3 separate regions of the Homo sapiens genome follow, and all the other regions are linked to region 2. Evidence: fine-mapped expression QTL. A gene starts in region 2. Each other region holds a variant in brackets. All regions are shown on one strand. Distances are from middle to middle. Region 1 overlaps GLDC (glycine decarboxylase). Region 2 holds the start of GLDC (glycine decarboxylase). Region 3 overlaps GLDC (glycine decarboxylase).

What was found. PIP is the estimated chance that this variant, and not a neighbour inherited with it, causes the effect.
Region 1: its variant is the best candidate, but not a certain one, in a credible set for the expression of GLDC in whole blood (INTERVAL, PIP 0.52).
Region 3: its variant is the best candidate, but not a certain one, in a credible set for the expression of GLDC in lung (GTEx, PIP 0.55).

What each region holds. Positions count from the first base shown.
Region 1 is chr9:6,602,614-6,608,528 of GRCh38, reverse strand. It overlaps GLDC (glycine decarboxylase), which reads left to right. Exons shown (of 25, transcript NM_000170.3): 5 at 1,860-1,937; 6 at 3,251-3,398; 7 at 3,745-3,941. Among named protein-coding and RNA genes, the nearest start is that of GLDC, 40 kb to the left of the region's middle. The variant A/G (reference allele first, on the strand shown) is at 2,900.
Region 2 is chr9:6,642,141-6,648,055 of GRCh38, reverse strand. It overlaps GLDC (glycine decarboxylase), which reads left to right and starts at 2,327. Exons shown (of 25, transcript NM_000170.3): 1 at 2,327-2,811; 2 at 3,364-3,442. The coding sequence starts at 2,557. RefSeq lists enhancers at 1-333, 1,320-1,419, 1,470-1,579, 2,560-3,117 and silencers at 2,250-2,499, 2,570-2,769, 2,810-2,879.
Region 3 is chr9:6,592,231-6,598,145 of GRCh38, reverse strand. It overlaps GLDC (glycine decarboxylase), which reads left to right. Exons shown (of 25, transcript NM_000170.3): 9 at 3,027-3,132; 10 at 5,156-5,295. Among named protein-coding and RNA genes, the nearest start is that of GLDC, 51 kb to the left of the region's middle. The variant A/G (reference allele first, on the strand shown) is at 3,168.

The sequences.
Region 1 (5,915 bases), 40 kb after region 2:
GACCTCATGATCCGCCCGCCTCGGCCTCCCAAATTGCTGGGATTATAGGCGTGAGCCACTGAGCCCGGCCGAGTTAATTTATTTGTTTTAATTATTTTGTTTTTTTTGAGACAGAGTCTCACTCTGTCACTCAGGCTGGAGTGCACTGGCGCTATCTCGGCTCACTGCAAGCTCCGCCTCCTGGGTTCACGTCATTCTCCTGCCTCAGCCTCCCACGTAGCTGGGACTACAGGTGCCCGCCACCACGCCCGGCTAAGGGTTTTTTTTTTTTGTATTTTTAGTAGAGATGGGGTTTCACCCTGTTAGCCAGGAGGGTCTCGATCTCCTGACCTCGTGATCTGCCCGCCTCGGCCTCCCAAAGTGCTGGGATTACAGGCGTGAACCACCCCGCCCGGCCCTCAATTGTTTTTTTGAGGCAGGGTTTGACTTTGTCACCCAGGCTGGGGTGCACGATCTCAGCTCACTGCAGCCTTGACTTCCCCAGTTCAAGTAATCCTCTTGCCTCATCCCCCCAAGCAGCTGGGACTATAGGCCCATGCCACCATGCCCAGCTAATTTTTGTATTTTTTGTAGAGATAGGGTTTTGCCATGTTGCCCAGGCTGGTCTTGAACCCCTGAGCTCGAGCAATCCACCCACCTCAGCCTCCCAAAGTATAAGGATTACAGGCGTGAGCCACCATGACCGGCCAATTTTATTTTTTTAATACAAAAATTGGCTGGGCATGGTGGCACATGCCCGTAGTCCCAACTATGTAGGGGCGGGGTGCTGAGGTGGAAGGAGCACTTGAACCTTGGAGGTCGAGGTTGCAGTGAGCTGTGATGGCGCTACTGCACTCCAGCCTGAGCGATAGACCGAGACCCTGTTCTCCCCCCACCAAAAATAAAATAAAAATAAATAAATAAACTATTTTATTTATTAATTTATGTATGTATGTATTTATTTATTTAAGACAGAGTCTCGCTCTGTGGCCTAGGCTGGAGTGCAGTGAGGCGATCTTGGCTCACTGCAACCTCTGCCTCCCGGGTTCAAGCAATTCTCCTGCCTCATCCTCCCGAGTAGTGGGATTACAGGCGTGCACCACCATGCCTGGCTACGTTTTGTAGTTTTAGTAGAGCTGGGGTTTTGCTATGTTGGTCAGGCTGGTCTTGAACTCCTGACCTCAGGTGATCCACGCACCTCGGCCTCCCGTAGTGCTGGGATTACAGGTGTGAGCCACCGCACCTGTCCAGTTTACACTTGTATCTAATCACTGTCCTTTGCTTTATTTTCTTTTTCCTCATGGTATATTTGAAACATTTTGAACCATTTTTTAAAAATTGTTATTGAGTAAACATAGAAATTGAACCATCTTAAGACTGACTTTCTAAATGGGGTTAGAATGGGAATTGGATCTATGAGGAATGCTAATCAGTAAATGCCATTAGTTACTGATGACTCAATTTTTTTTTAAATTTTTTTTTTGAGACAGAGTTTTGCTCGTCTTACGCAGGATGGAGTGCAGCAGCGGTGCAATCTTGGCTCACTGCAACCTCGGCCTCCCTGGTTCAAGTGATTCTCTGGCCTCAGCCTCCCAAGTAGCCGGGATTACAGGCATGCACCGGCTAATTTTGTATTTTTAGTAGAGACGAGGTTTTATCACGTTGGCCAGGCTGGTCTCGAACTCCTGACCTCAGGTAATCTGCCCGCCTCGGCCTCCCAAAGTGCTGGGATTACAGGCGTGAGCCACCGCACCCGGCCTACTCAGTATTTTTTATACTGTGCTTAGACTTACCCTCGGTACTATGTTTGCTTTGCGTTCTTAGAAGATAGTCCTATTTATTTAATGTTCACGTTGGAATGTGCTTTTTCTTTTCAACAGACACAACAAGAGGAGGAAATTTCTCGTTGATCCCCGTTGCCACCCACAGACAATAGCTGTTGTCCAGACTCGAGCCAAGTAATTAATTTGATTCGTGTTTTAAACTCAGTATAATGTCATGTTCATCTCTGCTGTTTCTTTCTCTTTCTCACTTCCAAACTGATTGGAGGTGAATCTGAAACAGGGTTTTTTGCTGTTTAAATTGGGGTTGCTGAGTTTTGCCTTACCTCTCACTTTCTTCTGGGCATCTCTCTGGTAAGTAAACTGTGTCAGAATTGAGTGGGGAAATACACAATTGCCATTGCTTTATAGTAAGTTGTGTTTTGTTTTCTTCTTCTTCTTTTTTTTTTTTTTTTTTTTGAGACGGAGTCTCGCTCTGTCGTCCAGGCTGGAGTGCAGTTGAGGGAACCTAGGCTCACTGCAAGCTCCGCCTCCCAAGTTCACGCCATTGTCCTGCCTCAGCCTCCCGAGTTGCTGGGACTACAGGTGCCCGCCACCACGCCTGGCTAATTTTTTTTCTATTTTTAGTAGAGACGGAGTTTCACCGTGTTAGCCAGGATGGTCTTGATCTCCTGACCTCGTGACCCGCCCACCTCCGCCTCCCAAAGTCCTGGGATTACAGGCTTGAGCCACTGCGCCCGGCCCGTTTTGTTTTCTTTTTGTAGAAAGAATAAAAATATTGTTTTGATCAGGTTTTGGAACGTTTGAAAAACAGAGAAAAATGGGACTCACATACAACTGTTAAGATTTTGTGTGTATTCCTTGCAAACGTAGTTTACAGAGGGTGTGCAGAGTCCCTAGGTGAGATGCTATGTAGTTTAAAGTGTAGTACTTTTCTTTCGTGCTGTAATCAGGTAAAACAATCCTCGCAACAACCACTATTGGTAGATATTTGCTTTCCCTTTGTAAAAGTTGAGCATTCTTCCCCCTACCCATACCACCATCCCTTCAGAGGGGGGGTTTCTGACATATAATTGGCATTATTAGTTCAGGAATCTAAGGAAGTTCTTCCTCCTTGTCTTACTTATGGTTTTCCATTC[A/G]CTTAAGAGTGATGCCAGTGAAAGAGGTGATGGCTCTGTTGTTAACAAATATTGGCTCATTAGCCCTAGGAAGCAATGCTCTTGGGCCTCTCTGAGGAGTAGATTGTGACAGGAAAGGGCAAAGGGGAGTCAGAGGATAGAAGAGAGGAACAGAAGCAGAGCTGTTGGATGCGCTTGAGTTGCTGTGATGTAGTTACCACTGAAGTGCCTGTGGGACGGGATGTGGGCAGGGGTGGGAGGCCACTGTGGGAGGGCACAGAAAATGAATGCTGTCTTACTGGAAAAGAAACGTTAATTAATTTTCCCTTATAAACCGAAAGCACGATTGTTCTTTGTTGTCTGTCTTTCCAGATATACTGGAGTCCTCACTGAGCTGAAGTTACCCTGTGAAATGGACTTCAGTGGAAAAGATGTCAGTGGAGTGTTGTTCCAGTACCCAGACACGGAGGGGAAGGTGGAAGACTTTACGGAACTCGTGGAGAGAGCTCATCAGAGTGGGGTAGGTATACCTTTCTTGTGGGGGGTCCGTGGAGGCGTATCCCAACTTGTATCTGTCTACCTATCTCTCTCTCTGTCTTTTCATGTGCCTTAATTTCTTTACCATTATCACATGGAATGGTAAAACTCTCCTTCCTGACTCCTTGCTGCTACTTTTTTCTGTTCCCGGATTCCTGGCACATGGTGGGCACTCAGTATGTATTTACTGAATGAATGAATGAGCAATGGAGTTCACAGGATGTGAACACACTCTGCCCGTCTTCCTGTAGTTAAGATAATTTCCTACTCTCCCACTACTCTCAGGGAAAGGTAGCAACCTTGTTCCTTTTCTCTCACTTCCTTTCTAGAGCCTGGCCTGCTGTGCTACTGACCTTTTAGCTTTGTGCATCTTGAGGCCACCTGGAGAATTTGGGGTAGACATCGCCCTGGGCAGCTCCCAGAGATTTGGAGTGCCACTGGGCTATGGGGGACCCCATGCAGCATTTTTTGCTGTCCGAGAAAGCTTGGTGAGAATGATGCCTGGAAGAATGGTGGGGGTAACAAGGTAAAGGGGCTCATGTTTCTCTACTTTTATTGTGATTATGATTTCCCTGATTTCTTCTGATCACAAATGTTGATTTCTATCTGAATTCAACTGGGCCATGTTGAGTCAGTTAAGGAAATGTACAACATAGATTCAGAAGAACAATTCTGTTTGGGATATGAGCTAGTACTTCTCAAATACTATAAATTTGTAAATTTTTGAAAAATTTTGTGTATAATTTACAATGTATCGAAGTCATGTAACGCATTTGCTTAGATTGATGGACGCCTTGAAAGACTAAATATTTTAGGCATGTTTTGTGTCTCGACAGTTTTCGTTCTCAAAAGCATTATGCCACGTGGCTCTGTAAAGACAAATGCACTGAGACTGCAAAGTACACACTGAGTTTGCTCCGCGTTCCTTCCTAGAGGCTTCCGCCACGTGGCCATTTGAGTAATTTCCAAATTTCCAAATGTACTTTCCTGACTGCTTCTCATTGGTGAAACTTCTCAGATTAAAAACGTAGATGTTCAGAAGTAGTCTTTGTTCCTTAAAAAAAAAAGAAAAGAAAAGAAAAAAAGGGCTGGGTGCGGTGGCTCACACCTGTAATCCCAGCATTCTGGGAGGCCGAGTCAGGCAGATCACAAGGTCAGGAGTCCCAGACGAGCCTGGCCAATATGGTGAAACCCTGTCTTTACTAAAAATACAAAAATTAGGTGGGCGTGGTGGTGGGCGCCTGTAGTCCCAGCTACTTGGGAGGCAGAGGCAGGAGAATCACTTGAACCACGGAGGTGGAGGTTGCAGTGAGCCGAGATCGCGCTGCCTCACTCCAGTTTGGGTGCAGAGCGAGACTCCATCTCAAAAAAAAAAAAGAAAAAAAAGGAAAAAAAAGGAGCGGGGGACCTAGATGCATTCCAGGATTATTACTGGGGAAATTTAGAAAAAAAAATTATGTTTTTGACCTTTGATAAAAGCTGGACTTTAACATAAGTGAGTAAGCTGAATTAGTCAATGATGTGATGATAATGTGAAGTGTGTTTTTTTAAAATTTTATTTATTTATTTATTTATTTATTTTGAGACCAAGTCTCACTCCATCACCCAGGCTGGAGTGCAGTGGTGTAAACGTGGCCACTGTGTCCAACTAATTTTTTAAATTTTTTGTAAAAACAGGGTTTCACCATATTGCTCAGGCTGGTCTTAGGGCTCAAGTGATCTGCCCACCCCAGCCTCCCAAAATGCTCGGATTACCAGGTGTAAGCCACCATGCCTGGCCTCTGTATACTTTAAATCATCTTATTAACACCTAATGTTATGCAATGGTTGTTACACTGTATTGTTTTTAAAAATTTGTGTGATTTGTTTTTTTTTTTTTATTTTTTGAGACGGAGTCTCTCTCTGTCACCCAGGCTGGAGTGCAGTGGTACGATCTTGGCTCACTGCAACCTCTGCCTCCCAGGTTCAAGTGATTCTTGAGCCTCAGCCTCCCAAGTAACTGAGATTACAGGTGCCTGTCACCATGTCTGGCTAATTTTTGTATTTTTAGTAGAGATGGGGTTTCACCATGTTGGCCAGGCTGGTCTCAAACTCTGGACCTCAGGTGATCCGCCCACCTTGGCCCCCCAAAGTGCTGGGATTATAGACATGAGCCACCATGCGCGGCTCATAAAATTTGTGTGATTTTTAATTGTTGTATTATTTTTTATTTTTTTGAATGTTTTCAGTCCGTGATTGGTGGAATCTGTGGTGTAGAATCCACAGAGAGCCAAGTCTTTTCAATTTTGTCGTATATTTCCACTTTTCCTGTGTCTCCTAAGAAGTTCAGAGTGAAACTTAATCCTCCCAGTCACCATTATTGTATTTGTCTGGGAAATTCCTGCAAAATTTTCTTTCAAAATTCCTAGACTTATTGTATATATCTTGGTGTCTCAGAGTACAGTCTAAAAATCAGTAATCCTGCTGGGCACAGTGGCTCATGCCTGTAATCCCAGCACTT
Region 2 (5,915 bases):
TCTCTCTCTCTCTTTTTTTTTTTTTAGGCAGAGTCTTGCTCTATCACCCAGGTTGGAGTGCAGTGGTGCGCTCTCCGCTCACTGCAACCTCTGTTTCCCAGGTTCAAGTGATTCTCATGCCTTAGCCTCCTGAGTAGCTAGGACTACAAGCACGCCCACCAAACTTGGCTAAATTTTTTTTCATATTTGTAGTAGAGATTGAGTTTCGCCATCTTGGCCAAGCTGGTCTTGAACTCCTGTCCTCAAGTGACCTGCCCGCCTCGGCCTCCCAAAGTGCTGGGATTACAGGAGTGAGCCACCGCACCCGGCCCCAATTCTCATATACATATATGTGTGTATATATACATGTTTTTTTTTGGCAGAAGGCAAATAACATCCATCACCACGGAGCCAAAGGGATCTGGGAATTATTGTTCCCTGGCTTCCAGTCCCTCTGATACATAGAAACAACATAGACAGGAATAGGAATAAATGCAGATTACCTCCTCCCTCCAATCCTTCCCCACAACCCCCACCATCTGGCACTGAGGAGATCTCCCAACTTTTATGAAGGTTGTAATTTCAATTCCAAATGGCCGAAAAACTTTTCGGAGACATTCAGCCCAGCCGTCCTAGCTCACCACCCGCCTCCGTCTGCCATACAGACATTTTACCTACTGTTCTTTGTGGTGTATTTTCCTGCCCTCTTTTCCATCTCTACTTTCCTGCCTCTCTGGATAGTCTGTGCCTCCTGGGTACGGAGCCCAGAATCTGTTAAGGGTGATTGGAGGAGGAAACTTAGCAGATAAGCAAGAAAGAGAACAGGTTTTATTTTCCCCTAGTCTAAGTACAAGTAATGTTCTGATTACTTCTGTCCTCTCTTCCCCATATTAGAACAACTGGAATTTTAAAAGTTCATTCTCTTGCTAAAACTGTCATGAGACAGCTGGAGATGGTACATTTACAAAAAATCCAGTTCTAGATGGCTAACTTTCAAAGTAAGACGACAGTGAACAATGTCTATCTTAATATCCTTTGTACTTTTGCTGGGCGCAGTGGCTCACGCCTGTAATGACGGATCACGAGGTCAGGAGATCGAGACCATCCTGCCTAAAACGGTGAAACCCCGTCTCTACTAAAAATAAAAATAAAAAATGGCCGGCCGTGGTGGCACGTGCCTGTAGTCCCAGCTACTCAGGAGCCTGAGGCAGGACAATCGCTTGAACCCGGGAGGTGGAGGTTGCAGTGAGCCAAGATCGCGCCACTGCACTCCAGCCAGGGCGACAGAGCGAGATTCCGTCTCAAAAACAACAACAAAATATCCTTTGTAGTTTTACACACACACGTATATGTATATACAGTACATATATTTAAAAAAACATATACACACACACACACAGTTCTTTTTTTTTTTTTTTTCCTGAGTCTCGTTCTGTGGCCCACGCTGGAGTGCAGTGGTGCGATCACATCTCACTGCAGCCTGAAACTCCCTGACTCAAGCAATCCTCCCACCTCAGCCTCCAGAGTAGCTGGGACTTCAGAAGCACGCAACCACGCCCCACTAATTTTTGTATTTTTTGTAGAGACAGGGTTTCACAATGCTGCCCAAGCTGGTCTCGAACTCCTGGGCTCAAGCTATCCTACCGCGTCGGTTTCCGAAAGTGTTGCGATTACAGGCGTGAGCCATAGCGTTACATGTGGTGGGGGGGAAGAGAGAGAAAGAGAGAGAGTGAGAAGAAGGAGGAGGAGGAGGAGGAGGAGAAAGAAGGAAGAAAGAAAAGAAAAGAAATATAGAGAGGGTGTTCAAATCTACTGTTCAAGTGCTTTCCATGTACATATAATCTCTTTTTAAAATCCCATCCAGCTCTGTTGAGATGAGAAAACTGAAGCTCTGAGAGGTTGAGTAACTTTATCACGCTCCCGCAAAGATAAAAGAACCGCCATCTGCCCATATTAATTTCCCTGAGATGAAATGTGACAGAGAAAGATACCTCAAAATTAAGGAAATGGAGAGCTTCGAGAATCATCTTCCATCTCCGCCGAGTCCCCCAGGAACTTGGCCCGGAGTCTTTGGGCTGTCCCACCTGATCTTGCCCCAGTGCGGCTCCACACCCTGGCGGGCGGCGTACGGAGCGTCCCGGCCCCCGGCACCAGCCAGCGTCGGAGTGGGTAGGACTGGAGATGGCAGCCTCCGGTCCAGGGGAAGCGGGACTCCACGGAAGGGCTGGGAAGAGGGTAGGAAGAGGGGGCGGGGGCGGGAACTGTTCCGCCCCCTCCCCCTCTGTCTACTTTCATTGGCCAAGGGCTTCCTGGCCCCAACCCACCTCCCGCCTCCAGGGCGCCGCTTAAAGTGTGCGGAGCAGGTGCCTTGGGTGGAGCCACAACTTTGCGCGAGTGTCTTGGTTGAGCGCAGCGCCCATTCATTGCCCGCGAGCGTCCATCCATCTGTCCGGCCGACTGTCCAGCGAAAGGGGCTCCAGGCCGGGCGCAGCCGCCACCCGGGGGACCGAGGCCAGGAGAGGGGCCAAGAGCGCGGCTGACCCTTGCGGGCCGGGGCAGGGGACGGTGGCCGCGGCCATGCAGTCCTGTGCCAGGGCGTGGGGGCTGCGCCTGGGCCGCGGGGTCGGGGGCGGCCGCCGCCTGGCTGGGGGATCGGGGCCGTGCTGGGCGCCGCGGAGCCGGGACAGCAGCAGTGGCGGCGGGGACAGCGCCGCGGCTGGGGCCTCGCGCCTCCTGGAGCGCCTTCTGCCCAGACACGACGACTTCGCTCGGAGGCACATCGGCCCTGGGGACAAAGACCAGAGAGAGATGCTGCAGACCTTGGGGCTGGCGGTAAGGACCTCCACCCGGCCCTCCGCGGCCTCCCCTCCGCCCTGCCCGGGCTCTGCCTGCGCGGCCTCCCGGCTCCTACCCTGAGCTCTGCTGCGCTCCGCGTGGTCCCCGCACCCTGGGTCCCGGGCCGTGGCGTGGAAGCAAATTCGTGCCTTTGGTCCTCGTGCCTTCTTACTTCTTAACAGCTTACTTTCTCCTGCACCCAGTCTTCGTGCCTCAAAAGTGTACATTTTTAAACCACCCCCAGCCCAAGTGGCCCTGTGGATGGACCTAAACTTTGCAAGAGGAGGAAGACCCCCTGATTAAGAGTGGGCTTACCGGTTAGCTCCGGTTGCAACTGAAATCCAACCCCGAGTGGCGGAATCTCCACCCCACTTCACGATTTTCTTTCCTCCAAATCATTCTGGCTTGCTCAGAGTTTTCCTTTTCTTTTAAAAAGAACCCTAATTAGGCGATTTCAATGAGGTTCCCACAAGGCTTTGTAGTCGCAAAACACAGAGGTGACTCTTTTAACTCAGAGGCACTTTCCTCTGCCTTGCGTTTTAATTTTAGAGCATTGATGAATTGATCGAGAAGACGGTCCCTGCCAACATCCGTTTGAAAAGACCCTTGAAAATGGAAGACCCTGTTTGTAAGTGGCCGGGAGGGCTCCCTTGGACTTAGATTATTCTGGCCTATTTGTCTTTTGTGGTTCCCTGAAAATCGAGCTCTGGGGTAAGGATTGCTCAGGACTGGGAATGTGTGGATTAAAATAAAACAGTGGCGGGTACCTCCGGAGCCGCGGGAAGGTGGGATATTTGGTTCTCGGAGCAGACAGTTTTGTGTTAGGAGAGAGTCGGTGTTGTGCGGTTCTTGGTCTTTATCCTAGGGCCCCCGCGAGCTTCCCCTGCGTTTTGTAGCAGATTCCCCACTTCCCAGGCACCCTCTCACCGGCCAGGGTGCTCTCATACTTTGGGTTGAGAGGTGTCATTACCTGCGCAGACCCGGATAGACTCAAAGGATCTAGGAATTGCCTAAGGTCGTGCAACTGGGGAAGTGACCAGACATCTCGCCTCCCTCCCCCAGGCTTCTTTAGATCGCAGTATCTTCCAATTGTTTTCTTACCTCACGTCCAAATTTTATTATTTACCAACTGAAAGACAGCAGTACTTTTCGAGTCCGAATGGTTTTTCTTTTCTTTTCTTTTTTTTTTCGTTTTTTTTTTTTTTTTTTTTTGAGACAGAATCTCTGTCGCCCAGGCTGGAGTGCTGTGGCTTGATCTCGGCTCACTGCAACCTCCGCCTCCCTGGTTCAAGCAATTCTCCTGCCTCAGCCTCTTGACTAGCTGGGATTACAGGGGCGCACCACCACACCAGGCTCATTTTTATATTTTTATTAGAGACAGGGTTTCTTCATGTTGGCCAGGCTGGTGTCGAACTCCTGACCTCAGGCAATCCGTCTGCCTCGGCCTCCCAAAATGCTGGGATTACAGGCACGAGTCACTGTGCCCTACCCCGAATGGTTTTTCTAGAAAAACACACAAATAAGATTTACATTTGTTTAAGAAAGGTCAGTTTAGTCATAGACTTTCTTAGAATTTTATTTTAGGTTTAAAATATTTTTAATGGTCCAAGATTGCTTTTCAGGGGTATTTTTATGTGGGTATTTGACTTCCATGGGGTGGGGGGACAATCCATAAGTCAAGGGCACAGGCTGAGCTCTTAAAAAAAATCTCATCTGGTTATCTCACTTTCAATCATGGAGATACTTATCTCTTTTTCTTCTAGAGTCAAATGAAGAGAGAGCAGCTGTTTTATTTTGTTGCTATGATAGAAAGGATCTAGTGTGCAGATGGCAAGCTTTATTTTGTTTGAAGGTGGACATTTGAGGTATGGAGCCTATCTGCTTCAGGTTGGCTGCTCAGGCTATGCTGAGGGCTGCTGCCTTTGTTGGTTTCAAATCTGATGGTCGTTGAAAACCTGCATGTTTTGCTGAATTGAACTAATTGAGATTTAGGGATGGTCGGAGGGAAGCCTTATCTATTTCCATTTTAGAAAATCAGAATCCTGGCTGGGCACGGTGGCAAATGCCTATAATCTCAGCATTTTGGGAGGTCTAGGCAGGTGGATCGCTTGAGGCCAGCAGTTTGAGACCAGTTTGGGCAATATTGCGAGACCCCATCTCTACAAAAAATACAAAAATTAGCCGGGTGTGGTGGTGTGCGCCTGTAATCCCAGCTACTCCGGAGGCTAATGTGGCAGAAACACTTGAGCTGGGCAGTGGAGGTTGCAGCGAGCCAAGATGGCTCCACTGCACTTCCACCTGAGTAACAGAGTGAGACCCTGTCTAAAAAAAAAAGAGAAAGGAAGAAAAGAAAAAATCAGAATCCTAATTCATTTGATGTGTGAAGAGTGAAGAGTTGTGTATCTTTAAAGCAGGGTATTTTAGGTGAATATTTGAACAAGTGAATCCCTTCCTGAGACTTTCAAAGTCAGGGAATGTTTAGGTTAGCTATTTTTATAATATATATACTCTAAAATAAAGTGTTCTTTTCAGAGCATTAGAGCCTGGGAAACATGGCAAAGTTGTGTATCCTTTTTTAGTTTAGTTCTTGGTTCCAGCTGAATAATTTGAACATTAAGGGATTCTGATTCTTCACTGTGGAAGTGGGCTCCTGAAAAGTAATTTGCAACTTGAATATAAACTTAATTTTTTTATTTTTTATTTTTATTTTTGAAATGGATTCTTGTTCTGTTGCCCAGGCTGGAGTGCAGTGGCATGATCTCTACTCACTACAACCTCTGCCTCCCCGGTTCAAGCCATTCTCCTGCCTCAGCCTCCTGAGTAGCTGGGATTACAGACGTGCACCACCATGCCCGGCTAATTTTTTGTATTTTTAGTAGAGATGGGGTTTCTCCATGTTGGCCAGGCTGGTCTTGAACTCCTGACCTCAGGTGATCCACCCACCTTGGCCTCCCAAAATGCTGGGATTACAGGCATGAGCCACCATGCCCATGCCATATAAATTTTAAACCTAGCAGCTTCTGTGACATTTTGAGCTTGTTCCATCTAGTTTGGGATGATTCACGCAGAAAATATTGCACAATCAGAAGTCCCCCCATTCC
Region 3 (5,915 bases), 50 kb after region 2:
GAGGTGGTAGGAGTGCTTGAGCTGGGGAGGTCCAGGCTGCAGTGAGCTGCAATCACACCACTGCACTCCAACCTGGGTGACAGAATCAGACCCCACCTCTACAAAACAAAAAGGAAAAGAAACAATTTTTTCTATAAATTTGTGGCATTACTACAGATGTCTGAATTTTCATTATGTTCTGTTCTTTATATTCTCTTATTTCTTTTTTTTTTGGAGACGAGTCTCGCTCCATCGCCCAGGCTGGAGTGCAGTAGCGCCATCTCGCTCACTGAAGCTCTGCCTCCCGGGTTCACGCCATTCTCCTGCCTCAGCCTCCTGTGTAGCTGGGACTACAGGTGTCTGCTACCATGCCTGGCTAATTTATTGTATTTTTAGTAGATACAGGGTTTCACCATGTTAGCCAGGATGGTCTCGATCTCCTGACCTCATGATCCACCTGCCTCAGCCTCCCAAAGTGCTGGGATTACAGGCGTTAGCCACCATGCCCGGCCATATATTCTCTTATTTCTTAGCTTCTACCACAATGAGCAGCTCTTTCATTGGCTTTTCTTATTTTTAATATAAAAATCTTTTTAAAATAGAGATGGGAGTCTTACTTTGTTGCCCAGGCTAGTATTGATCTCCAGGCCTCAAGCGATCCTCCTGCCTCAGCCTCCCAAAGTGTTGGGATCACTGGTGTGAGCCACTGCATCCAGCCTTGTTGGCTTTTCTAAAGTCAGGTGTAGTAAAGAATAATTTACACTTTATTAGCTTTTTTTATTGAGATGTAACTCACCGTAAGTTTCACCAATTGCAAGTATACAGCTCAATGGTTTTTACTCTATTTACAAGGTTGTGCAACTATCACCAGTATTTAATTTCAGAATATTTTTATTACCCCAAAAAGAAATTCTATTCCTATGAAGTAGTCACTCCTCATCCCTCTCCCCTTCCTATAGCCCCTGGCAACTACTATTCTACTTTCTGTCTCCCTGGATTTGCCTGTTCTGAATATTTCATATAAATGGGATCATACAATGTGTGGCCTTTTGTACCTGGCTTCTTTGCATAAGGTTTTCAAGGTTCATCCATATTGTAGCATGAATGTGTACTTAATTCTTTTCTATGGCTGGGTAATATCCCATTGTTTGGACATGCTACATTTTGTTTATCCATTCATCAATTGGTAAACATTTGGGGTGTTTCAAATAAGCCTGCTGTGAACACTTCTGTGTAAATTTTTGTATGGATGTAATGTTTTCAGTTCTTTTGGTTATATTCCTAGCAGTGAAATTGCTGGGTCATATAACTCTACATTTAACATTTTGAGGAACTTCCAGACATTTTTCAAAGTGGCTGCATTATTTTACTTTCCTACCAGCAGCATATGAATATTCTAATTTCTCCGTATTTTCACCAATGCTTGTTACTTCCTATCCTTTGGTTATAGCCATCCTATTGGATGTCAAGTGATAATCTCACTGTGGTTTTGTTTTGTATTTCCCTAATAACTAATGATTTTGAGCATTCATTAGCTTTTGAGGCTTTTAAGTACCTTAATTGTATTATTGTTATTTTATTTATTTATTTTAGAGATGGGGTCTTGTTATGTTCTTCTTGCTGGTCTTTAACTCCTGGGCTAAAGCAATCCTCCCACCTTAGCCTCCCAAAGTCTTGGGATTACAGGCGTGAGCCACTGATTCAAGCCCTTTGTATTTTTAAGTTTGTTCAATTTGTGAAAGAAATTGTCATTTTCTTGGTCTCTATTTTAATTTTTTTGGTTCTTCTTTTGATATTCTAGTGCCCTTTGAAGTTTTTAAAAAGTGGTTTTATACTTCTCATCAATTTGTTGTTCAGCCGTGTGATATAGCCTCCTGATTATGGAAGGAATCATCTGTAGATTAAAAAGGGACATGAACCAACCTCTACAATATTGTGGTGGAGGCTGCCAGGGCATTCTGTGAATGTCAGGCCTGGGTTTCTGTTTCCAGCAACACAGCCATGAGCATTTGGGCACAGTGTGTCACAGATTCTTTACCTCAGCCTCGCCTTTTCCACAGCTGTAAAGTGCTGTGGAGTTTCTGTGTTTATTTCTGATTGTTGTAAGGAGTCCATAAGAGTGTTTACACTTTGTCTAGGACTTTTAGTACAAGAATGCCTACTTCCATGTTTTCTGATGTCTCTTTCTCCTCATTTACTTCCTTGTTTGCTGACTTCACCTTTGGAAACTGTTTCTTATTTTGCATTGGCTCCATAGAGACTTCCTCTAGTAGTCTAGCAGAAAAAAAGATGTACCTAACAAAATGGACCCAGTATTGAACATCAACTGTATTTTGCAGAGACAGGGTTTTGTATTGTCAACCGGGCTGGAGTCCAGTGGCGCAATCATAGGTCACTGTAACCTCGAAATCCTGGGTTCAAGTGATCCATCTCGGCTTCTGGAGTCACTGGGACTACAGTTGCACACCACCCCGCTCCCAGCTGAAGTGCGCATTGCCGTTTTTGCCAGTCCTTTGCCACAGATTCTCCATTCAACTCTTGGTTGGCAGAAGTTCAGCCTCTAGTGTTTTATTTAAGTTCTTAGGAGAATTTTATTCCTGAAGTTCTTGAATGTTTGAAAATTGCTTGTTTCTTTTTATTCTTGAAGAATTGCCTGGTTGAGTGTAAAATTCTCAGATCTCACTTTTTCTCCCTGAGGTCTTTATTGCTTCACTGTCTTCCAACATTAAACATTGCTTCTCAATGTCTGATGGTAGTGTGATCTTTGCCCTTAAGGGTGACATGATTTTGTTGCATGGAAGAAGCCCTTCGTAATGGTCAAATGTGAAGGTTTAGTATAGTAACAACTCCAGGGTGTCTTGGATGATGGTTCCTTTCAGGTAGTCAGGCAGGTTATATATTAATTGTCCCCAACTATCAAAGAATGTAGGAAATCTGATCATTTTGTTTTGTCGCTGTCTTCAGTTTTGACATCCCAAGTCAAGTAATTACACCCTCCCACTAATTGTCCTCCATCACGTGATTCTTTAAATGTTCTTATCTTTTAGGCCCTCTTGGCGAATATGGCTGCCATGTTTGCAATCTACCATGGTTCCCATGGGCTGGAGCATATTGCTAGGAGGGTACATAATGCCACTTTGATTTTGTCAGAAGGTGAGTTGGTAATCTGTCTAAAACATTTGGGCATA[A/G]TAAAATTGATAAATTTGAGTAAAATTGAAAATATTGCATGTCCAATACTATATGCAAAATTAAAAGTCAAGTGAGAAACGAGGAAAAATACTTTCAACATCCATGATTATTTTGTTGTTTTGCTTTCTTTCTTTCTCTTTCTTTTTCTTTCTTTCTTTCTTTCTTTCTTTCTTTTATTTCCTTTTTCTTGCTTTCTTTCTTTTTTTCTTGCTTGCTTGCTTTCTTGCTTGCTTGCTTTCTTGCTTTCTTGTTTGCTTGCTTGCTTGCTTGCTTGCTTCCTTGCTTAATGGAGTCTTGCTCTGTCTCCCAGGCTGGAGTGCAGTGGCACGATCTCAGCTCACTGTAACCTCCACTTCCCGGATTCATGTGATTGTCCTGCCTCAGCCTCTCAGGTAACTGGGATTAAGGTACACGCCACCATGTCTGGCTAATTTTTGTATTTTTGGTAGAGACAGGGCTTTGCCATGTTTTCCAGGCTGGTCTCGAATTCCTGACCTCAAGAAATCCGTCCACTTTGGCCTCTCAAAGTGCTGGGATTACAGGCGTGAGCCACCATGCCTGGCTTAGACTGAGTGTTAATATTTTTTTCTCTTTTACTCCTGGCAAGCTGTGATATTTTTAATATGTAGAACTCTTACTTTCCTACCGGCCCCAAACATAAGAAGGATGAACACCCTAATAGAAAAATAGGCAAAAGACATTAAATGTAATTTTAAAAGAAATAAGTATACAAATAAATGGCCAGTAGACATAGAATTTTAGCCTCATTATTAATGAAAGAGATACAAAATAAAGCAATAAACTAGTATTTATCCCATTACATTGGCAATCAGAAGAATGCTGCTATGTAGTGAGCTAGACATGGTTACTCGTGTATGTAATGTCAGCTACTCTGGAGGCTGAGCCAGGAGGATTGCTTGAGGCCAGGAGTTCAAGACCAGCGTGGGCAAGAGCGAGACCACATCTCTATAAAAAAATAGAAATAGGCCAGGCACAGTGGCTCATGCCTGTAATCCTAGCACTTTGGGAGGCTGAGGCGGGTGGATCACTTGAGGTCAGGAGTTCAAGACCAGCCTGGCCAACATGGTGAAACCCTGTCTCTACTAAAAATACAAAAATCAGCTGGGAGTGGTGGCATACTCCTGTAGTCCCAGCTACTCGGGAGGCTGAGGCAGGAGAATTGCTTGAATTTAGGAGGCGGAGGTTGCAGTGTGCCAAGATTGCTCCACTGTACTCCATCCTGGGCAACAGAGTGAGACTCCATCTCTCAAAAAAAAAAAAAAAAAGTGATTAAATCATGGTTCATCCATATGTTTGACTATTGTACAGCCATTAAATATGGTTTAAAATAGTGATCTATAGGAAAGCATAGATGAGACCAGGTGTGGTGGTTCACACCTATAATCCCATCGTTTTGGGAGGCTGAGGTGGGAGAATTGCTTGAGTCCCAGAGTTCAAGGCCAGCCTGGGCAACATGGCAAGATCACTGTCTTCAAAAAATTTAAAAAATTATTAGCCAGGTGTGATGGCATGAGTCCTTGATCCCAGTTACTTGGGAGGCTGAGGCAAGGGGATTGCATGAGCTTGAGCCCAGGAGTTTGAGGATGCAATCAGCTATGATCATGCCACTGCATTCCAGCCTGGACAACAGAGTGAGACTGTATCTCTCAAAAAAAAAAAGGTATAATTTTATATATATATATATATATCTGATACTACCTGCTCCCCCATTTCTTGAGAAATAATACACCAAAATACACGCAGTAATGCAATTGTATGTTGATTTTCCTTACTCTTTTATATGTATTTCATAATTTTCTACAGCATGATAATAAACATGTTTAGTTTTTTAAAAAGCAATCACCAAAGCACTCCCCAGGACCAACAAGAGTCTAGTAGAATTTATCTCTTTATTATTCTGTGACATGTCAATGGCTGAGGAGCAGGTTTCTATATGAGAGTTTGGGGGATCTCCTATCTTGTGTAGGTCTCAAGCGAGCAGGGCATCAACTCCAGCATGACCTGTTCTTTGATACCTTGAAGATTCAGTGTGGCTGCTCAGTGAAGGAGGTCTTGGGCAGGGCCGCTCAGCGGCAGATCAATTTTCGGCTTTTTGAGGATGGCACAGTAAGTCAAATTTTCAGTATTTTTACCAGTTTTTCAAATTTTCACATTGTTTCTCATTAAAAGGTTTTCTCTTTGTTTTTAAAAAATAAAAAGGAAAACTTTAGGCACAGTCCTATTTTTTCATAAACAAGTGTTATTTACATTATGCAACACTGTGGTCTTTTCAGTAAAGGATCATTCACCCTTTGCTTTCTTTTAGACTTAGTGTTTTCATATGTGGGACTGAAATGCACATATTTTGTTCATAATACTCCTCTCTTCACAGTATGACTGACTTTAAGATAAAGGCTCTGATAACTGATATACAGGTTAAGGGAAGAAAATCTCCTCAATATCTGATAAGTGGGTTAAGGGAAGAAAAAGATAAGCATGTCTAGCTTCAAAAGGAGTGTCCTGCAGCCATGGAATGTTAGAGTTCAGAGGTGGCTGGCAAAACTCGAAGCCTTGTGAAACCTGGGACTGGTCTAGCCACCTTCCTCTAAGCCTTAGCGTGGAGATAATTGTACCCTGATATTTTGGAATGATGGGATTTTGTTTAGCACTGTCTCCCCTTTGACCTCTCTTGGGATTCCTCCAGTGATGTGGAGTTTAGAGTTGATGTTTTCCATTTTGTTTGTGTT